2 linked regions of the Homo sapiens genome follow. The protein of the gene in region 1 purifies or fractionates together with the protein of each later gene. This does not show direct contact. Each region holds a gene or a part of one and is shown on either strand. Other genes may lie near its edges.

The links. Proteins that work in one complex are often made in the same cells at the same time.
Region 2: the proteins of KLK8 (region 1) and ATP4A purify together in Homo sapiens (affinity purification with mass spectrometry; 3 studies listed by BioGRID and IntAct, with this or other methods). This does not show direct contact.

The regions. Positions count from the first base shown.
Region 1 is NC_000019.10:50,995,414-50,998,662, reverse strand, and holds the end of KLK8 (kallikrein-8 isoform 1 preproprotein), read left to right. Parts: intron 1-778; coding exon 779-912; intron 913-2,448; coding exon 2,449-2,604; 3' UTR 2,605-2,655; downstream 2,656-3,249. UniProt on the Homo sapiens protein: Serine protease which is capable of degrading a number of proteins such as casein, fibrinogen, kininogen, fibronectin and collagen type IV. Also cleaves L1CAM in response to increased neural activity.
Region 2 is NC_000019.10:35,553,586-35,557,237, reverse strand, and holds part of ATP4A (potassium-transporting ATPase alpha chain 1), read left to right. Parts: intron 1-149; coding exon 150-325; intron 326-1,425; coding exon 1,426-1,562; intron 1,563-1,647; coding exon 1,648-1,798; intron 1,799-1,903; coding exon 1,904-2,072; intron 2,073-2,161; coding exon 2,162-2,316; intron 2,317-3,408; coding exon 3,409-3,532; intron 3,533-3,652. UniProt on the Homo sapiens protein: The catalytic subunit of the gastric H(+)/K(+) ATPase pump which transports H(+) ions in exchange for K(+) ions across the apical membrane of parietal cells.

The sequences.
Region 1 (3,249 bases):
GAGATTATGAGCATATTGCTTTTGGCACGTAGAGATGCCAGATGGAAGTTTTTCCCCCTCAAAGAGGCTTTGGAGAAGTCTATTCCTCAAAAGAGGTTAATAAAAAAGATCAATTCCACCTTCAATCATTAATTCAACTCTTATTTACTGAGCACCTAGTATGCCTGAGGTGCTGTTGCAGGCGCTGGATATACAGCCATGAGCAAACTGTACAAAGTCCTTGTCGTTATGGAGTTGCAAGCTAGGTGGGAGAAATAGACAATAAACAAATACACATAAAATAAAACATTAGGCAAAGTGCTGTAAGGAAATATTGTGGAGCGTAAAAGGATAGGGAGTAATGGAGGGATGGTATTTTTTAATTCGAGTGGTCAGGGAAGGCTTCCAGGAGGAGGTGACACTTGGAAGGAGCAGGATTTAGCACAGATTGAGGACCCGGTTGTCTGAGGGCAGGAAGACTGGAAAGAGAGGGTCAGAGGTATCATAAAGGGGCACCTCCAAGTAACCCCCAGCCCCTTGATTTGAAAATGGCTCAGGGTAAGAAAAAACACGTGAGATCCAAGGGCCCCTCTCTAGATGGAGAAAGCCCAATAGCAACAAGTACAGCTTCGTTTAATGTGGTGAGAAGTGATGTCCCCTGTGCACAGTGTCAGAAAATTCCCCCATGCAGCTGGAAAACTCCCCCATTACATCCTGGAAAGAAAGGGGGTTAGATCCAGACAGGGATGGAGGCAAAGGGCTGCTCTCTCAGGGAACCTTACAACCTCTTCCCCCTCAGAGAATTTTCCTGACACTCTCAACTGTGCAGAAGTAAAAATCTTTCCCCAGAAGAAGTGTGAGGATGCTTACCCGGGGCAGATCACAGATGGCATGGTCTGTGCAGGCAGCAGCAAAGGGGCTGACACGTGCCAGGTGAGCAATTTCTGAAATCCTTCTCCTCACACATCCCTCATTGCCCTCTCGAGGTTCAAGGCTTGGATGGGGGTGGGGGTGGTAAGGGAGTGACCCCAAAGACTTGGCACCCGGAGTGTTCACCCCTATCTCTACGGATTGGGAGCCAGGTTCAGAGAAGCCAAACTCTCTCTCTGAAAGTCACACTGCATAGGGATTAGGAGCATTGAATTGCTGCTGCTGTTTTCTTTCGAACGCTTAACTACAGGATGGGATGCAGAGTTGGGGGCTATAGAGGGTGGGGTAGATGTCCAGCAAGGAGAGAGTCTGAGGCTAGAGTTTAGACGAGTTGCCTGCTCTCTGGTTCCCAGCATTACATCGTGGAATTTGTGCCGACTTTACCACCGGCCCGGTGGTCAGCCACTTTTCTTTGAGACCGGGCTAGAATCCCAAGGCTGGTTCCCTTCTCCTGTGATTGGTTCCTTGGGAGACAATGGTGTCTTCCCAGTTGGCTGGAGTAAATGGTGCCATTGACTTCAGTGCTTCCTCAATGAGCTCCAATCCCTTTCTCTTGGGATTTGTCATAGATATAACTCTCTCTTCTAACTGCAACTTCGTTGTTCCTAGCACTTTCCCCTGGCTTTGTCCACTTCCTGGAAGCCCCACCACCTTTGCCAATGACTGGTCCCTAAATACAATGCTTTCTTCCCCATTGGCCAAAAATGGAGTCGTTTCCATCAGCGATACTGCCATGAAAGCCAGTCTCTGGATTGTTCTGTAGAGATAGTGGTCTCTTCCACAAATATTTCAGCCATGGTCTCTTGGGGATATGGTGTGTGTGTGTGTGTGTGTGTGTGTGTGTGTGTGTGTGTGTGTGTCCATAAGAATCTTGATCCTTTCTCCTATGTTTGGCAACTGCAATCAATGATGCCTTCACTATTGGCCAGGAACAGAGGAAACTTCAGCTCAGTCCTCTCCAAGTAATCCCTACTGTCTTCTCCCTGGATTGGACCCTCGAGAACTCTTTTTTTTTTTTTTTTGAGACAGGGTCTCGCTCTGTCCCCCAAGCTGGAATGCAGTGGCACAATCTTGGCTCACTGCAGCCTCTGCCTCCCAGTTCAAGCAATTCTCCCACCTCAGCCTCCCGAGTAGCTGTGATTACAGGTGTGCACCACCACACCCAGCTAGTTTTTGTATTTTTAGTAGAGACAGGGATTCACCATGTTGGCCAGGCTGGTCTGGAACGCCTGACTTCAAGTGATCTACCGCCTCGGCCTCCCAAAGTGCCGGGATTGCAGGTGTGAGCCACCAAGCCTGTCTGGGATTTCATTCTTTCCCCTCTTCTGTCAGTGTTTTGACCACTACCCTTAGACACCATGTCTGTCTGTACATGGAAGCCCCAAGCCCTGTCCTGACTGGTCTCAGGGGACAATGCTTTTACCCCCATTGGCTACAGGGGACCAATCATGCCAAAGAACTGGTAAAACGCTGGGACAGCAGGAAAAGGGACGTTGTGGACATCTCAGATGCAAGGCTGTTCTCATTCTCCCTGTCTAGGGCGATTCTGGAGGCCCCCTGGTGTGTGATGGTGCACTCCAGGGCATCACATCCTGGGGCTCAGACCCCTGTGGGAGGTCCGACAAACCTGGCGTCTATACCAACATCTGCCGCTACCTGGACTGGATCAAGAAGATCATAGGCAGCAAGGGCTGATTCTAGGATAAGCACTAGATCTCCCTTAATAAACTCACAACTCTCTGGTTCCTTGCCTGTCTCTGTTTTGGCCCTGTGGGGAGGGCTGGATGGGGATCCGGGATTGTTCCTGCTGGCAGACTAGGTGGGGATGTGCAGAAACCAAGTTCTCATGGTCACTTTGGCCATCACCACTGCCTAAAGTGATCCCTCGTTTTCTGGAAGAACTTGGGTAAGAGCTTTATTTCAGGGGAGAAAATACATACAAAGGTCTTCAAACATTCAGTGGGCTGGTATGTGAAAGACAGTTTTGAAAGAGTTTGTGTTTAGTTTTCCTGAGCAAAGCATTTACAAGCTTTGGAGATAAAATTTTCCCCCTTTAAAAAATAATTGGCCAGGTGCGGTGGCTCAAGCCTGTAATTTCAGCACTTTGGGAGGCCGAAGCGGATGGATCACCTGCGGTTAGGAGTTCGAGACCAGCCTGGCCAACATGGCAAAACCCCGTCTCTACTAAAAATACAAAAATTAGCAGGGTGTGGTGGTGGGCATCTGTAAACTCAGCTACTCAGGAGGCTGAGGCAGAAGAATCGCTTGAACCCAGGAGGCGGAGGTTGCAGTGAGCCAGGGATCATGCCATTGTACTCCAGCCTGGGTGACAAGAGCAAG
Region 2 (3,652 bases), about 15 Mb from region 1:
GATTCAGATAATGTGAGTGAAGGGGTCAGCACAAGGTCAGGCATCCATAGGTGTTTGGTGCAAGGGGCCTGGTTATTTTACCCATTTCCTGGCCCTGCTAAGAAAGGGTGTGCCCAGGGCTCTTCCCTGACTTCCCCGTTTCCGGTCAGGCTTCTGCCAGCTCTACCTGAATGAGAAGGACTACCCGCCTGGCTATGCCTTCGACGTAGAGGCCATGAACTTTCCATCTAGCGGCCTCTGCTTTGCGGGACTTGTATCCATGATTGACCCACCCCGGGCCACCGTCCCTGATGCTGTGCTCAAGTGTCGCACCGCAGGCATCCGGGTATGCCACTGTGGGGAGGAACAAGTGGAGTGAGGACAGAGGATGGCAGCAGGATTTGGGTTGAAGAACCCCATGACAAACCCACCTGAAACTGGCTTGAACCAAAATGCATTGGTTTATGATACTGAAAAATTCTGGGGAATTAAGCTTCAGGTCTAGCCAGATCCAGGAGCTCAGTGTCATTAGGAATTTTCCTTTCTCCATGTCTCAGCTCTGCTGTTCTCTTTGCTGGCTTTATTTGCAGGCACTCCCTTCACTTGGGGACACACACACCCCTGCTCCAGCAGCTCAAACTTAACTCCCACCTGCTTAGCCACCCCACAAAAAGAGAGTGCCTCTTTTGCAGTAGCACTGGATTGGGTCACTCATTTATCCCTGAGCCAGTCACTGGGGCTGGGGGATGGAAGACCTTGATTGGCCAGGTCTGGGCTTACTTACCCAATCTTAGCCAGGGACCTCACTGCAACTGATGGTGTAGGGGAGAGGAGTGGTTCCCCAAACACAAAACAAGGGTGGGAAAGCCAAGGCCAGGCAGGCAATGCCCAAGCCCTTCCCGTGTCTCTACGGCCCTGTTACATCGGGCCTTGTTACCTTTCTAAGCTTGTTCGTTAGCCCTCTTTCCTTGTTCACTCCTCTGCAGTTATGGTGTCCTCCCTGCTGTTCCTCCGACAGTTCGGGCCTGTCCTCACCTCAGGGCCTTTGCACCTGCTGTTCTCCCTGCCAGGAGCACTCTTCTCCCAGCTTTCCACGTGGCTGACTCTCTCACCTCTTACAGGTCTCTGCTCAGATATCACCTTCTCAATAAGCCCTTCCCTGGGTACACTTAAAATCGAGTCACCGTTTCCTTCACCAAGCTTAATATGTTTTTTTCCACTTTCTAACACACTATATAATTCGTTTCTTTATTTTCTGTCACCCTCACTAGAGCTCCTCAAGGACAGGGATTTTTGTCTCTTTTGTCTCTGCTATATCCCAGGCACGTAGGAGGTGGTCACGCTTGGTCAAGTAAATGAACACGTGTATCAGCAGATGTCTCCCAGGGAGGACAGGGAGATTGGGCTGATCTGAAGGGGTCAGTGATCCACTGGTTCCCCCTACAGGTGATCATGGTAACGGGTGACCACCCCATCACCGCCAAGGCCATTGCAGCCAGTGTGGGCATCATCTCGGAAGGCAGCGAGACAGTGGAGGACATCGCTGCCCGCCTCCGTGTGCCCGTAGACCAGGTTAATCGCAAGTAAGCCCCCCCAGACCTCCCCGGGGTTCTCCCCACATCTGGCACAGACCGAGGTCCCAGCGAGGTCCTCCCATCTCCTCCCCAGGGATGCCCGTGCCTGTGTGATCAATGGCATGCAGCTGAAGGACATGGACCCATCGGAACTGGTCGAGGCCCTGCGCACCCACCCCGAGATGGTGTTTGCGCGCACCAGCCCCCAGCAGAAGCTGGTGATCGTGGAGAGCTGCCAGCGGCTGGTGAGCCCTGCTGATGAGGGTGGGCAGGCGGGCAGACAGGCGGGGCTGGTCTTGGACCGGCCTCTCACTGACCACCCACCCACCACCTGCACCCACTGCCTGCAGGGTGCGATTGTGGCCGTCACGGGGGATGGTGTGAATGACTCCCCAGCTCTGAAGAAGGCAGACATCGGAGTAGCCATGGGCATCGCTGGCTCAGATGCTGCCAAAAATGCAGCTGACATGATCCTGCTGGATGACAACTTTGCCTCCATTGTGACAGGCGTGGAGCAGGGTCCGAGCCACGCCAGGGGGAGGGCAGGCAGTGTGGGCACAGGAGGGAGAGGGCTGTGAGGAGGCTGAGGTGCCCACCCTACCCCACAGGTCGACTGATCTTCGACAACCTGAAGAAGTCTATTGCCTACACATTGACCAAGAACATCCCAGAGCTGACACCCTACCTCATCTACATCACCGTCAGCGTGCCCCTGCCCCTCGGGTGCATCACCATCCTCTTCATCGAACTCTGCACTGACATTGTAAGTCCACAGCCCAGGGTACCCATCCACAGGGTGCCCAGAGACACTTGCTTGCAGATGGACAGGAGGGACAGAGACCACCACAGACACTCTTGGGCACAGAGTGACAGACAAGACCTGTGTGTGCAATGACAGCCAGTGCAGGACACATGGGTGGCAGGCAGGTGAACAGACCTAAATGGACATACAGCCATGCACACACAGGCGGACACTCAGGTAGGCCCGGGCCGACCCATGCACACACATGACTCAGATACAGATACTCAGACAGAGATGGAAACAGAACAGGTATCTGGCCAAACTTGAATCACAGACACGTGCCCCTAAACAGACACGGACAAATAAACCCCCTCAGATAGACCCCATGGCAGACAGACAGAAAAGAACCACAGATACAGTCACGAATGCAGCCAGAGGCGCAGCTGTGTTGACAGGTATTTATTCGGTAACATTTACACAGTGCTTTCTCTGGGCCAGACACACCATCATTTCCTTAATTTTGTACTCATAACCACACTATGAGATGAGTTTTGTTACTATCACCCGTACTTTACTGATGAGCTCATCAAGGCATAGACAGGTAGAGTGGATTGTCCCAGGTCACTGGGCAAATAAGTGGCCCGGCTGTGACTTGAGCTTGAGCAGTCACAGGTCCCACAGCCTGTGGTCGTGGTCAGTATGCTCTGCTGCCACTCTAGGCACAAGCAGATGAAGGGGCACGGCGACACTGAGAGACTGAAGATACACAGAGATAGGGAGTGACACAGAAATACACAAGAGCAGATACAGTCACAGAGAATTACACTGGAGACAGGGACAGAGAAACAGAGTGAGGAACAGAGAAAGAGAGGGAGGGAGACAGAGGGAGAAGATAAAAGCAGATGTTCTTACGAAGATGGGCACCAGGATGCCAACACCCAGGGGCCAGTGGGGCCCAGGCTGTCCAGGCTGGTGTGGCTGTGCCGTCCCTGCAGGTCCTGCCTGCTAACCTCAGTCCTGTTCCTGCTCACAAGTGGGGGAAGGGGGACCCGAAGTGGAGGGGACAAGGGCCCAGCCAAACCCTCAGTCCCAGTTCCTTCCACTCCTGGCCAGTTCCCATCTGTGTCCCTGGCATATGAAAAGGCCGAGAGTGACATCATGCACCTGCGTCCACGCAACCCAAAGCGTGACAGATTGGTCAACGAGCCCCTGGCTGCCTACTCCTACTTCCAGATTGGTGGGTGCCCGTGGGCCGGGGAGCCTGGAGGTGGGGGGCTCTGCGCTGGGCTGCTCGCCTGCCCCAGGCCCTGCCTTGGGCTCCGGCTGGTTCTGGACCTCAGTGTCTGCATTTGGTCCT